Linked DNA regions of Homo sapiens: regions 1 and 3 are each linked to region 2. Evidence: fine-mapped expression QTL. A gene starts in region 2. Each other region holds a variant in brackets. All regions are shown on one strand. Distances are from middle to middle.

Region 1 (4,242 bases), 31 kb after region 2:
CATCCCTCTGCGGTGGTCCTGGAGAGCCGAGTGGGCTTGCCAGCTGGGAAGAGAGGAATTATCTACTTTGGAAGGCATGTCAGTACATCTAATATTAAAAAGAGATTTATCCCCACTGTGCCCATCAAGTGGACGGAGGCTTCCCTCACCGCCTTTCACCCACAAGTGCACTGCCACACATGGGTCTCTGACTGGAAAGTTTGGGGGCAGCACGGGGAGGGCCCAGGACTTGCCAGACCACCCCCCGCCATGTGTTCTCACGTCTGCATGCCATCGCCCCAGCATGGGTGCTGCACGGCGTGGCCCCTTCCTCCGTAATTTATGGCTTGCTGTGCACCTCATGCTGCCACTTAGTCCCTGAAGAAAACATTCCTCCCCCTAACACACATCCCCTTGTTTATTTCTGCCTCCCTCCTGGCTGTTTTTCTCCACATTGCCCCTGTTATGGGGCCCCAGCCACTCACACAGAGTTCTGGGCCTGCAGGGTTTGCCGGCTGAGAGGACATTAGTCTACATGGGTGAAACTCAGGCTCCCTCCCCACTGAAGTGCACTGTCACCACCTCCCTCCCTTTGCCAGCAGACATCCACTGACTAGACAATGGTCACTTAACTGCCTGTCACCTGTGCAGTGGACAGAGCATTCTCGTACCCTAGATGAAATGCACAGCCTGTGTGAAGAGGTCCAATAAAGCAGAAAACGAGATTTTTCACTCCTGTCACTGGAGAATACTTGGAGTATTTCAATCACTGCTATGGTCACAAAGTCAGTGGCACCTGCTCCACCACTACTAGCAAAACTTCCTCATTGTTCCAGTGCCAAGGAACAAATCACAGGGGCGAAGACTGCAGACCCTGGAGTCCAGCCTTGCGAGCCAGATGCAGCTCCCAGGGCAGAGGACGGGCCTCCTGCACCCACAGGGATGCCCCTCTTCTGCTCTCAGCCAGGCCCCTGCTGAGAGTTGTTTGCTGCCACTTACTTCTGAGTCAGCTTCTCCCTGGCTCTCTGAACAGGCTCATCTCTGCAGACATCTCTTAGAGCTTGAAAAAATTATATAAATCTTTCAAGATCCAGTAGCACACAACCTTTGGTTTTATAAAAAGCATACATGTTGGTTCTGATGAACGCTGGCCTTCTCATGTCAACAAATGCCTATTTCACCAAACGATGAGTTTCACCTCTCTTCTGAGATACGCACTAGTATAAACACAACATGACCCCATATATGTGAGATGGGTTTGCTTCTTGAAACACCATAATAAGGAAAGAAATTGACTGACAACAGACTGAATGAGGCAAGCAAGCTCTCACCCTGGCCTGCGGCCGGGAGGGAGAGGCGAAAAGGGCGGTGTTTCTCTCTCCTTTCATGGCCGCAGGATTCTAGAAAATCAAATAGCAGTCTGGGAGGGACAGCCTTGCTCCACAGAGTCTACTGAGAGATGGTGCAGTGGGGAGACAGAATCGCAGCAGGGCAGGATGTGGAGCAGGCCAGGGCCTGCACCAGCGCCCAGGTATGCGGCTGACAGGCAGGGCGCTGGCCCACGGCAGGTGCAGCACCGCCAGTGCCCGTGGCCCCAGGAAAAGAAAACCTGCAGGTGCCGTCAGGACATGTCCTGAGCCTCCGAAGCCACGCGCTTTTCTGAATAGCAGTCCTATGCTCATTGTCTGGCTGCAAGATGATGGTGTGCATTGTGGGGGGACAAGAGGGAGGGAGTGGTGTGTGGAGTCTCCTGCTCTGGTGGCTTTGATGACACACAGGGGCAGCTCCAGAGTGAGGGGCAGTGGGAGGAGGTGGGGCAGGCAGTGGAGATCCCAGGGTGCTGGTGTGGGCTGGCTGAGCCTGTGCCAGAGGAGGCGGGGTAGGGACTACTCTGCCAGTCCTGAGGCAGCCTCTCTTCCCCCAGGAGGGTGACACTGTCTCCTGATGTCTGGGAAAGTTAGACAGGGAGCCCTACACACCTTCAAATCCAGCCCTCGCTGCCTGCAACAGGCTTCAGTCCTTGGCCAGTATTTAATATTTCCCTCCATTATTTTGTGAAAAAAGGAAGACATGTTAAGCTCGCAACACTTTAGAAGATAAATGTGACATTAACCGTGCCATCACCACAGTTTGCTAGGGCAAGCCATGTCAGTGCGGTCTCAGGGAGGACCAGGTCTCACCTGTGCCCACAGAGGGGACTGCACATGGCTGGCCACAGTCATGCACCCCGATATCATGCCCTGCTGCATTTTTTTCTGTTTATGTTTCTCTTTTTTTCCCCTTCTATAGAACGTAAATCCATGAAAACATGGCCCTGGTCAGTCCTCTTCTGTGCTGTCTACCCATATGGTAGTGGGCACTCAGTCAATATTTGCTGAATGAGTGAAGGATTGAACCCCACGGCACAGCATTAGTGGAAAACTTATTTTGACCTGAATGTCAACGGAGTGTGTG[TGC/C]TCAAGGCAATGTTGTTTTTCAAGAAAGCAGATGTGACGCCATTGTATACCCAACAAATACAAATTGCGGGGCTTGGTAACTCTCTATGGCCTACAGCTCTGACAGCCTCTGATGTGCTGTGTGAAACCAAGAGCAGAAATGGATGTCTCCATTCTACTCATCCGTGCATGGCTGCAGTAGCAGCCAGTTCATTTTGGTCCTGTTTCATTTGGTATTACAAATGCCCCTGTAGGCTGGATGTGCTGGCTCACACCTGTGATGCCAGTACTTTGGGAGGCCGAGGCTGGAGGATTGCTTGAGACCAGGAGTTCGAGACCAGCCTGGGCAACATGGTGAAACCCTGTCTCACAGAAAAATGCAAAAATTAGCCAGGCACGGTGGCACTTGCCTATAATCCCAGCTACCCGGGAGGCTGAGGTGGGAGGATCACTGAGCCTAGGAGGTCGTGGCTGCAGTAAGCCGAGGCCGTAACGCTGCACTCCAGGCTGGGTGATAAAGCAAGACCTTTGGAGAACAAAAGGGGGTTAACTGCAGACACTCGTACACCTGGCAAAGTTACTGGAATAAGCATGTCTTTGCCTGGAGAACAGCAAGGGCTGATTCAATGCCTTTATTTGAACTCTGCATGTGGAATTTTATTACTTGGAATATATCCTCAAAAAAATGGAAGTAAAGTAAGCAGACTAAACTGAAGTGTATAATAAGTTTGGTTTGATTTAAATAGATTATTACATTGATAAGGTTAGAACAAGCTATGACAATGCATTAAGAAATAAACATCATTGTGAAACTTAAAAATTAAGCTATGAGATATTCTATGATTCCTAAGATGAGCCCCTGCAGGTATAGGTAACTGAAGGATTTCACTAGGGTGATGATTCTATTCATCTTCAGCCTCCTGGTAAACTTACAATGATGAGGGGTTTGAAACCTATAGGTTTTTAGCACTCGGCTAACCACAAAACCATAACTTTCAAAGGAGGTAAATGTGCAGGTCAACAGAATAGGAATTTATATGGTAAATGTTACACTGACTGAGAAACTCTCTCCCTTCCTCAGCAGACACTGTTATTCTTAGACAGGATAGGTTCTGAGCCAGTCAGGAGGTTAGGAGAGGGTGTTAGGGCAACTTGGTGCTTCTGAAAGGCTGTTGAGGTTTTTGGCACACACTACAACTCTCTGAAAGACAATGGATTTCTGGAGATCCTTTGAGTCACCTTTGCCATGATGCTGCAACCCTAGGCCTGTCCACACTCCCACACCTCCGTGTCTCTTGCAGGAATGGACTTCCTTCCCTTTTTCTCCCTTCTGCCTGGAAAATTTCTGCTCTCCCTCCCCAGTGAAGCCCTTCCAGCCTCTGCCAAGAAGTCTGGCCACCCTGAGTGTGTTGTCCAGGCATCTGTTACAGCCTGGGAGAGCATCACACTTATTATCAACTTTGATGTCATGAGGCCTGGGACTCACATTCCCCACAGTGCTCTTGTCTGGTGTATAATAAACCCGCATTAAACTGATGACAAATGAAGAGCATGCTCAGCTCAAACTCGTGATGCTAGAATCTCAGAAATTTCCCCATACATCCCCAGAATTCAGCTCTTCCTTTGCAAATGACAAATGTCCTGTAGCAAACCATCTGTGGGAGCCTTACAGTGCCAGGGCCTCTCAGCAAGCATGCACCCCATGGACCTGGCCGCCTTTGGAACGTGTTCCCCTCCACAATCTGCATCTTCATTATTTTAAACCTTGAACACCATCTCCTCAATTTCTTCCTCTCAAACTGCACTTTGTCTTCCATGTCATAATCGC
Region 2 (4,242 bases):
TGCATGGAAGAAAGAACTGGAGGATAAAAGAAGTGGAAGAGGAGGAGGTGACTTACAAAGTTTGCTCAACAGGTTAAGGAGTTTTGGCCCGGCATATTTTAATTTCAACAATCTGTGATATTGCCCCTACATCTTTTTATTATTTTTTTAACTTTAAGGGAACATGGCTGATGGGCTCTAGGCCTTAAACTCGTGAAGGAATAACTAATTAGCTTACCTATAGCAAGCACCCGGTGTATGCGATCTCCCCAGGCCACCAGAAATAACCACCAATGTGCTCACCAACAGCGCAGGCCTGCTCCCCAACACAGGCCTAGTACATCAGGTGGGGAGCCCACAGCGTCTCTTAGTAATTACTGACAACCACTCTTTCGGTTCCTTGTCTCTTGAAGTGAGCAGTGCAGCAATCTCTAGGAATTAAGTATTTGCTACAGCTCTGTGATCCAACAGAAATCAATAAGGTGTCACAGGTAAGTATAATTCAAATATGTCCAGTCTTTCCCTTTTGTTCTCTATGGTCTCAGGAATTTCACTCTTCTAGACAAGGGGATATGTAGAAACACTATTTAAAAATACTACTGTTACAAACTCATAATCACCATCAATTCATATCGGGTAACTGTTGTTAGGACATTTGCTTTAGGATAACACAGTCCATGCCTTTACCAAGCACCCTTTGCTCTAGTTTCAAACAGCATCCCAATCCTTCATTCCACAAACAAATGAAACAGTAAAGAAAAACCAGAGGCCTCGACATTGGAATTATTTCATTTGGGATTATTACTCATGGTTAGTAGAATTTTTCTGCCTTCAGTCTAAAAATGCCAGTATGTGTACAATAACATAGTTTGTCATTTTCCCCTCTGAAGTTAAACGAGCAGGCACTCTGGAGAATACTGTAGATTTGGTGATCCTGGCTGAGCCACCCCTTTTTATTGCTGCCTTAGCTGAAAGAGGATATCCCCTCTGTGATCAGGAAAAGCAGAAAGTCCTCCCACCCTGAAGATGTAAGGAATATCCTTTGTCTGCCGGCACAGAACTTGTCTTTCAAATAAGTAAAGGACCAAGGTTGCTGAGATATTTTCCGGAAAAGCAAGATTGGGCTGTACCCCACACCCAAGTGGTGTTGTCAGCCCGTTTTCATTGGGGGGAATGCCTATTTAAGCAGTATAAAAATTCCTCGTGGCTTTCCTCAGATTCCACAGACAACCTCCATCTTTTGGAAGTGAGATGAGGGCAGTGGGAAAAGAAAAAAACTACAGTCACAAGCCACATAGCGCCATTTAAGTCAACATCAGACAACATTAGGACAGTGGTCCCATAAGATGTAACACTGTACTGGAACACTGCACCTTCCCCAGAGTGCTTAGCACTCTGTTTTAGCTGCCTGCAGCATTCCGCGCTGTGACCTGCTGTGCAGGGGTGCAGCCCAGAAGCAATGGGTTGTACCATACAGCCTGGCGTGCAGTAGGCAAGGCCATCTAGGTTTGTGTCGGTGCACCGTGATGTGCACACAGTGATGAAATCTCCTAGTGACCTCGGAACGCGTCCCGCTCCTTAGGCAACCCGTGGCTGTATTCCAATTTCCCCTTGCTCTCAGAAACACAACTAAAAGCTCGAAGACCTCAGGTGACAGACTGCCTCCTGTTACCTCACCAAGACTGAAAACCTAAGCAGTGGCTCCGCCCAAAGAGCAAGCTTCTAGCCCTCTGACGGGAGGCCCGGCAAGATCGTCCTCTGGACAGCACCTTGCTATTTTGTGACGCTGCTCCAGCCCCCAAGATGTCCAAGATCTTGGGCCTTCCCTTGAGGCGTGACGCTCACGACCCGAAACACCTCTCATACAGCGTGCACACCACATTTCAGATTTTAATGATTTACACTGCAATCAAGCAAAGAGGCTGCGAACTCAAAAGCCAGCAACAACTGAACATTTAAACTCCAACGTCAACAGTCAGAATACAGCCCTCAAGGCGGCCAGCTGGGACCCTGCCGGCGGCACCGCGCACCGAGAACCCAGCGCGAGCAGTCGCTGAGCCGATGGGCGGGGCCCAGCTGTAGCTTTGGCTACGTCGCGGGCAGCCTGGGAGCCAATCCGCGGCGGGCTGAGCCGTTGCCTTGGCTACACCGTCTGTTAGGGCCGCGCACGAGATCAGTAACTGAGACCTCACCGCGTTGACCCAGCACCAGGGCTCGCGGGGGTCCCGCGAGGGTCTCGGTAGCCGCGCGCCCAGAGACCCCCGCCGCGGCCCGATTCTCTGAGCGCCAGACATGAACCGCAAGAAACTGCAGAAGCTGACGGACACCTTAACCAAAAATTGCAAGCATTGTAAGTAAGAATGTAGTGCTGGACAGGCCGAGGCTCCTGGACCGAGCCTGGGTCCCACCCCGTGCTAAGGTCCGCTGTTGTGCCTGCTTCCCGCCTGCTGGGACTCTGTGGGCTACCTACCGCCCCTCCACCCCGGCCCCTTAAGCAGAAGTCAGAGAGGGAATCCCGGGGTGCCAGCTCCTTGCGTTTGATCTTAGGAACCCAGGCCTCCGCCTCTGGTGCTACCTACACTCCCACACATGCATTTACTTGCTTCTCCAACCCTCTTCTTTTACCTGATAGAAACATGTGATGTTAGCCTCAATGAGGTGTAAAATAAATGCTAAAACCAACTGGTCTCAAGAAAAGTAGCACCACCAAGGTAGACCGTGCACTCACCCTGCTTTATAGCTCGCACATACACCCGCAGGTCCAAGTTCTGGAAGCTTACCAAGAGACCCATAGGAGAAAACGGTGCTCAACTTCTCAACATCTTTCGGAGAGATGAGTTGTGTCATCTCATCTGTGCCTCAGAACAATATTTGTTTGGAAACCAGAGTTCAGCACAACTAAACACGTGGTAAAGAATGGGTTCCCAACTTTAGACTCCCACTTTCCAGTGGCCCCTGGTGTTGAAAGATAAAGGAGACTTTGCAGGTGACAAGATGAGCCCTATTTGAAGGCACCTGCTCTAATCTCGCATTTGAAAGGGTGGTCCTAGAATTTCATAGGAAACTTTGAGTTTATATTCAGACTGAAAAACATAATTGCACTTTAGCAAGGAAGCCGTGGGTATGGTTTAGATGAGGAAGATAATTTCCTGTCGAGCAAACTTAGAAGTTGTGTGTGCTAATTGCAAAACTACTGGCCACTTGAAGAAACAGAAGCAACAATCCCCCAAATAACCGAGTCGCTCAAAAAAGAAGGAATAAACATGTTGATGTAGTTTTAGAGATTGTAAGATCTAGTGCATTCTAATTATCATTAGTATCTGATTTAATACCTGGTAAGAAATGCTCTCTTAGTGGATGGTGATATAAATGAATATTATGGTGTGTGTACGCATCTTAAAATGTTTAGGAAAAAAATCCTGTAATTTAAGATATTATTATGACTACTATACTCTGATGAGGGTTTTGTTCTGTTATTGTTTTTCTTAAAACACTTTCATTTCTGGGAGAATAGGTATTCTTCTAGTAAACATCTAGTAAACATTTTTGATAAATATTCAAAAACAATGCAATAGCTGCTATACACAATACTGATTTTGTCCCTTTCCGTAAGTTTGAATTTGATTTAGTCTCTGTTCGGTAAGTTTGAATGCATTGCAGACAATCATTCTGTGAACAATCAAAAGGTGAGTGTATATTTTTAAAGGTAAGTAAAAATATGGCAGGAAAAAGTCTGCTCTTGATTTTTTTGTTTACTAAAAAATTTTCAATGAGTCTTACAAACTTAGATGATTATTAGTTAAAGTCTATAGAAATAGTTATACGTCATGGACATTATAATAATTTTAAATTTTCTTTAACGGAAGAACTTTCCCCTAAAGTTAAATTTTGTTTTAGTTGCAAGACAATAAAGCTATCAAGATTCAATGGATAAATTTTGTAGAATCAAAGAAGAGTGAAAGATCTTAAGAGAACATCTAGTTCATGCACTGTTCTACAGATATGTTCTGCAGGACACATTCACAGCATTCCAAGAAGATGAAAACCTATTCTTGAATTTTCTTGTTTCATTTAGTATTGTATTCTAGAATTTAAGAAATGTTTAGCAATAAAAGTTTTCTTATGGCTAACCTTTGATCCTTTGGGTAATAAATTAAACTAGTTTTTAAAAATTTTTATTTCAGCTGAGATGGAAAAATGGCTAACCAACATCCCCTCTGCTACCATTTTATGTACATGAACAGAGTACATCATTCTTCATGC
Region 3 (4,242 bases), 38 kb before region 2:
AAAATATATGCAAAATTCAAACCTTTTTAAAGTGAGTTGGGAGGTTGTTCAAAGCAATTTGCTGTGTAGCCTTCGAGGAAGAAATGCATCAGTTTATTAAAAAATTATTACAGCCTCTACTTAGACATTGTAATAAGTATGGTAGTTGGTAGAGGGCTATATAGTCATTTTCTGATAATAAAATGAATACTCCAAAAAAATTATAATACCTATTGAGTTAGTTTGATATTTAAGATTATGTGATATCGTCAAAGTTCAAAAGAGCACAAATATACAGATCTCTTTTTTCTGGCATTTTTAGACAAATGCAGACAAACGTGAATATATCCTATTTTGCTAACCTTTTGACATGGATACAAAAGAAGAAAGAATTTTAAGAATTTATGCTAATTTTAAAAACGTAATCAATAAGTTGGCAAAAATGTTATGTGCTGATGGTCTGAAAGCTATAGCAGGAAGAAACACAAAGGCTACCGGTCCCATAAAAATCTTCAGAGTAATCGACTTCTCTGTATATAGAAAGATATTTTAAAACACCAACTGTAAAAATGATGGCATCTTTCAAGACACTATTGAATAATACTACACAAATTGTCCTTTTCATCATAGCTATGGTCTTTGAATGTTATACTTTTTATTTTCTAATGATCTTGTTTGTTAGTAATAGATCCTGTTGCTAAGAAGTTTGAAAACATTGAGAATGTAAAGTTTTATGATGTCTATGATGAAACATCACTTACTGAAAGCATTTCTTCAGGAAGACAATCAAATGAGATAGCTAGATTAGCTATAATAATAGAGCTAGGGTATATCAGCTATTCACTCTGTGCCAGGCACCACGCTAAATGCTTTAAGCTGGTCATTTCATTGCATAATCACAAAAGTCTAATGAGGTTGGGGGTCATGTATTCCCACTTTACAGATGAGGAAACAGAGGCTTTGATGGCTTCAGTCACCTTCCTGGCCAGCTGAAGCAGGAGGAAGCAGGGAGGGCTCACCTAGGGCTTTTTCTAACCCCCGCCCTCCACCCCTTGAACTCTGCCTTCCCGCAGCGCAGTGGCTCTGGTTCCGTGTTTGCCACAGTGCAGGCAGAGCAATCAAGGGTCACTGCATGTCACCTCTCTGTGAGGTGTGCCAAAAGTTATTTGTTAACTTTGTTAAGTAGTAGAGAATCGCCAAGTTCTGTAAATTAGAAAGTATGCAGTTCTCCCTGTGGTAAACTCACTCTCCTCTCCAGTGTGTTCCCACGTGCTTCTGAGCAGAAGTAGCAGAGCTGCAGCTGGCTGGATAGCACCTGCTGTGCAGCAGGAGTGATCCACAAGTATAAATCATACGTCCATGCGTGTCACCACAGAAAAACAGGCCACGCAAACACTGCTGGAAACCAGCAGGCAGGGTCCCAGGACAAACACTTCAGTGCCACAGAGAAAGTGCAGGTAAGCTCCCCTGGGGTGAGTTGTCAAAGGTCTGTCACCTGGACTTTGACAGGCTCTGAAGCACAGGTCACTCAGGTGTGAAATTCTACATGGATTCGGGCCGGGTGCGGTGGCTCATGCCTGTAATCCCAGCACTTTGGGAGGCAGAGGTAGGCGGATCATGAGGTCAGGAGATGGAGACTATCCTGGATAACACAGTGAACCCCGTCTCTACTAAAAATACAAAAAAAATTAGCAGGGCGCGGTAGCGGGCGCCTGTAGTCCCAGCTACTTGGGAGGCTGAGGCAGGAGAATGGC[G/A]TGAACCCGGGAGGCGGAGCTTGCAGTGAGCCTGAGCCGAGTTGGCGCCACTGCACTCCAGCCTGGGCGACAGACCGAGACTCCATCTCAAAAAAAATAAATTAATTAAATAAAAACAAAATAAAAAAAAGAAAGTCTACATGGATTCAACATGGGCCTTTTTATTAAATGCCAGTACAGCAGAACAAAATAACAATCTGCTATTCTACACAGCAGGTGGCAAACATAACGAAATCATGATGCTAGGAGATGGAACCCATGAAGAGGTTCAATAAGGGTAGGTACACTTCATGTGCGACTTTATTTAACCTATGTTATAGCACACTTTTCTTATTGTAAAATTGAACTATTATTTTCTTTCTTTTTTTTTCTTTCTTTTTTTTTTTTTTTTTTTGAGATGGAGTTTCCCTCTTGTTGCCCAGGCTAGAGTGTAATGGCGCGATCTCGGCTCACTACAACCTCTGCCTCCCGGGTTCAAGCGAGTCTCCTGCCTCAGCCTCCCCAGTAGCTGGGATTACAGGCACCTGCCACCACGCCTGGCTAATTTTTTTTTTTTTTAGTACAGACGGGGTTTCACCATGTTGACCAGGCAGGTGTCGAACTCCTGACCTCAGGTGATCCACCCACCTTGGCCTCCCAAAGTGCTGGGATTACAGGCCTGAGCCACCATGCCCAGCCATCATTCTCTAGATTCACTAAAAGTTATTTTTCAAATCTTTAAAGACATTCACAAATGTAATATATGGATTCTATAAGCATCTTTTAAAATAATGTGTGTGTGTATATATGTATGTATATATACCTATATATATACATACATATATGGATTTTCCCATGTCTCTTATGCCTTCTTTTTCTCTGATATATACATGTATGTATCTTCTGCCCCCTTCCCCAACTTCTGTCACTCTCCCTGCTGTTCAAATTACTTTCTCTGTTATTTGAATAGAAAGGTTTCTTTGTATAAAATTCTGAAGCGTTTATTTTGTCTTTCCTTGTGTATCTATGCCTTAACAATTTTCCTCTAACAAGTCGCTTTCTGATAACACTGCTGAGTATCATTTACATAATTAGGGTATTGATTAGAACTAATAGAGCAAAGGATGAAAGACAGCCATTTGTTACTTAAGGAGGAGGGGTGAAGAGTAAGGAAGATGGTAGTACCGATAATGTTGCCCGATTGGTAGCTTTCAGACAAGAAATAAGTTTTGACAGAAGAACTATCCAATGAGAGTGAAAATATACTCAATGTCCATCAACTACATATACATTTCACAGAGTTCATAATTTATTGAAAATATTCTCCTACCATAAAATAAACTTCAGAGAAACACAGTGAGCTTTCTTATGAATTAATCCTAATGCCTGAAGTCCTAGGAGCTGTGAAATAAAGAAAATAAATAAAATTATGTAAACACATAATATTGCTGAGCAACATGGCTTAGCCCTTAAACAACTTTTTCTTGTTTGAAAGATTTCAAAAAGAAACTACTGTGAAATTTATGTAGGTATTCACCCTATGGGTAGCGCTATGATATTTTAATGAACAATTAGACAGAATGGTGACTGAAGCCAATCACAGAGAGTCTTCAGGGCCATCCCTTCCTCCACTTCCTCATGGACAGGAACAGGAGCATGCACACACACACACAAGTGTGTGAATGCTGACTTAGCTAAGGTGGATCCTTGACAAATATTCTATTTATTTTTAAAAATCTAAATGTATTTATGCATTGATGAGAATTTAAAAATCTCTCTCTTGCTTCTCTTGGTTTGTAAAATCCAGTGCATGTTTTCAATATACAATCGGCACTATTTAGTTTAGACTGGCAGAGATACCCATAGGGACTGGAGGCACTGCCTACAAACCTAAGATGGGGAATCATTACAGATAAAATATGACTGGATCCAAACCCCTTCCCTAAGGGATGCTGAAGCCAAACCAAAACTGCTTTGAAGAGCATAATAAGGAAAAACTGGGTTAGCTTTGGGTTTTGCTGCTTTTAAATCATCATTAATCTGCAGTATCTGCCCTTCTGAATCCTTATAATAGCTAGGTGCTATAAGAGAAATGCCAGACCCACCAAAAGTTGACCAGCAAACACTTGTTGAGTGCCTACCACACACCATGTACAAACAAACCAACTAGCAACTCCTTGGGGGTCTCTGAAACAGGTAATGCTTGGAATCCTGGTTGCAACAACATGGAATATTCTGCTTAATTACAAATGCTGGTGTCAGGAAATGGTTTTTTCCACTTCTCCTATTCCTACAAGTTTCCTTTTTCTCCTACAGAAAGGAGTCTTGTAGCTTGGCACACTGCTTTGAGAAATCTGTGATCATACTTGTAAATAATTACCTATTTGCCCATCAAGGAACTCTTGTGTAGGAATCCACGGATGGTCAGTTCGCCCATCTGTAAACATGAAAGACGGATCACCCAAAGACAGAATTGAAAACCACACGTGGCTGGTACCCAGAAGAGAAATAGAAAGTCAGCATGGCATAT

Alleles and levels. Positions count from the first base shown, and alleles are read on the strand shown. Sizes are in standard deviations (SD) of each study's normalised expression.
With allele TGC in place of C in region 1, the expression in substantia nigra of the gene that starts at base 2,155 in region 2 is higher (moderate effect, 0.69 SD a copy in GTEx).
With allele A in place of G in region 3, the expression in testis of the gene that starts at base 2,155 in region 2 is lower (moderate effect, 0.43 SD a copy in GTEx).

Evidence for each region. PIP is the estimated chance that this variant, and not a neighbour inherited with it, causes the effect.
Region 1: its variant is the best candidate, but not a certain one, in a credible set for the expression of CLXN in substantia nigra (GTEx, PIP 0.78).
Region 3: its variant is the best candidate, but not a certain one, in a credible set for the expression of CLXN in testis (GTEx, PIP 0.87).

The regions. Positions count from the first base shown.
Region 1 is chr8:48,701,723-48,705,964 of GRCh38, reverse strand. No RefSeq gene overlaps it. Among named protein-coding and RNA genes, the nearest start is that of CLXN, 31 kb to the left of the region's middle. The variant TGC/C (reference allele first, on the strand shown) is at 2,434.
Region 2 is chr8:48,733,181-48,737,422 of GRCh38, reverse strand. CLXN (calaxin) reads left to right here and starts at 2,155. Exons shown (of 6, transcript NM_024593.4): 1 at 2,155-2,329. The coding sequence starts at 2,272. RefSeq lists an enhancer at 2,076-2,750.
Region 3 is chr8:48,770,982-48,775,223 of GRCh38, reverse strand. No RefSeq gene overlaps it. Among named protein-coding and RNA genes, the nearest start is that of CLXN, 38 kb to the right of the region's middle. The variant G/A (reference allele first, on the strand shown) is at 1,734.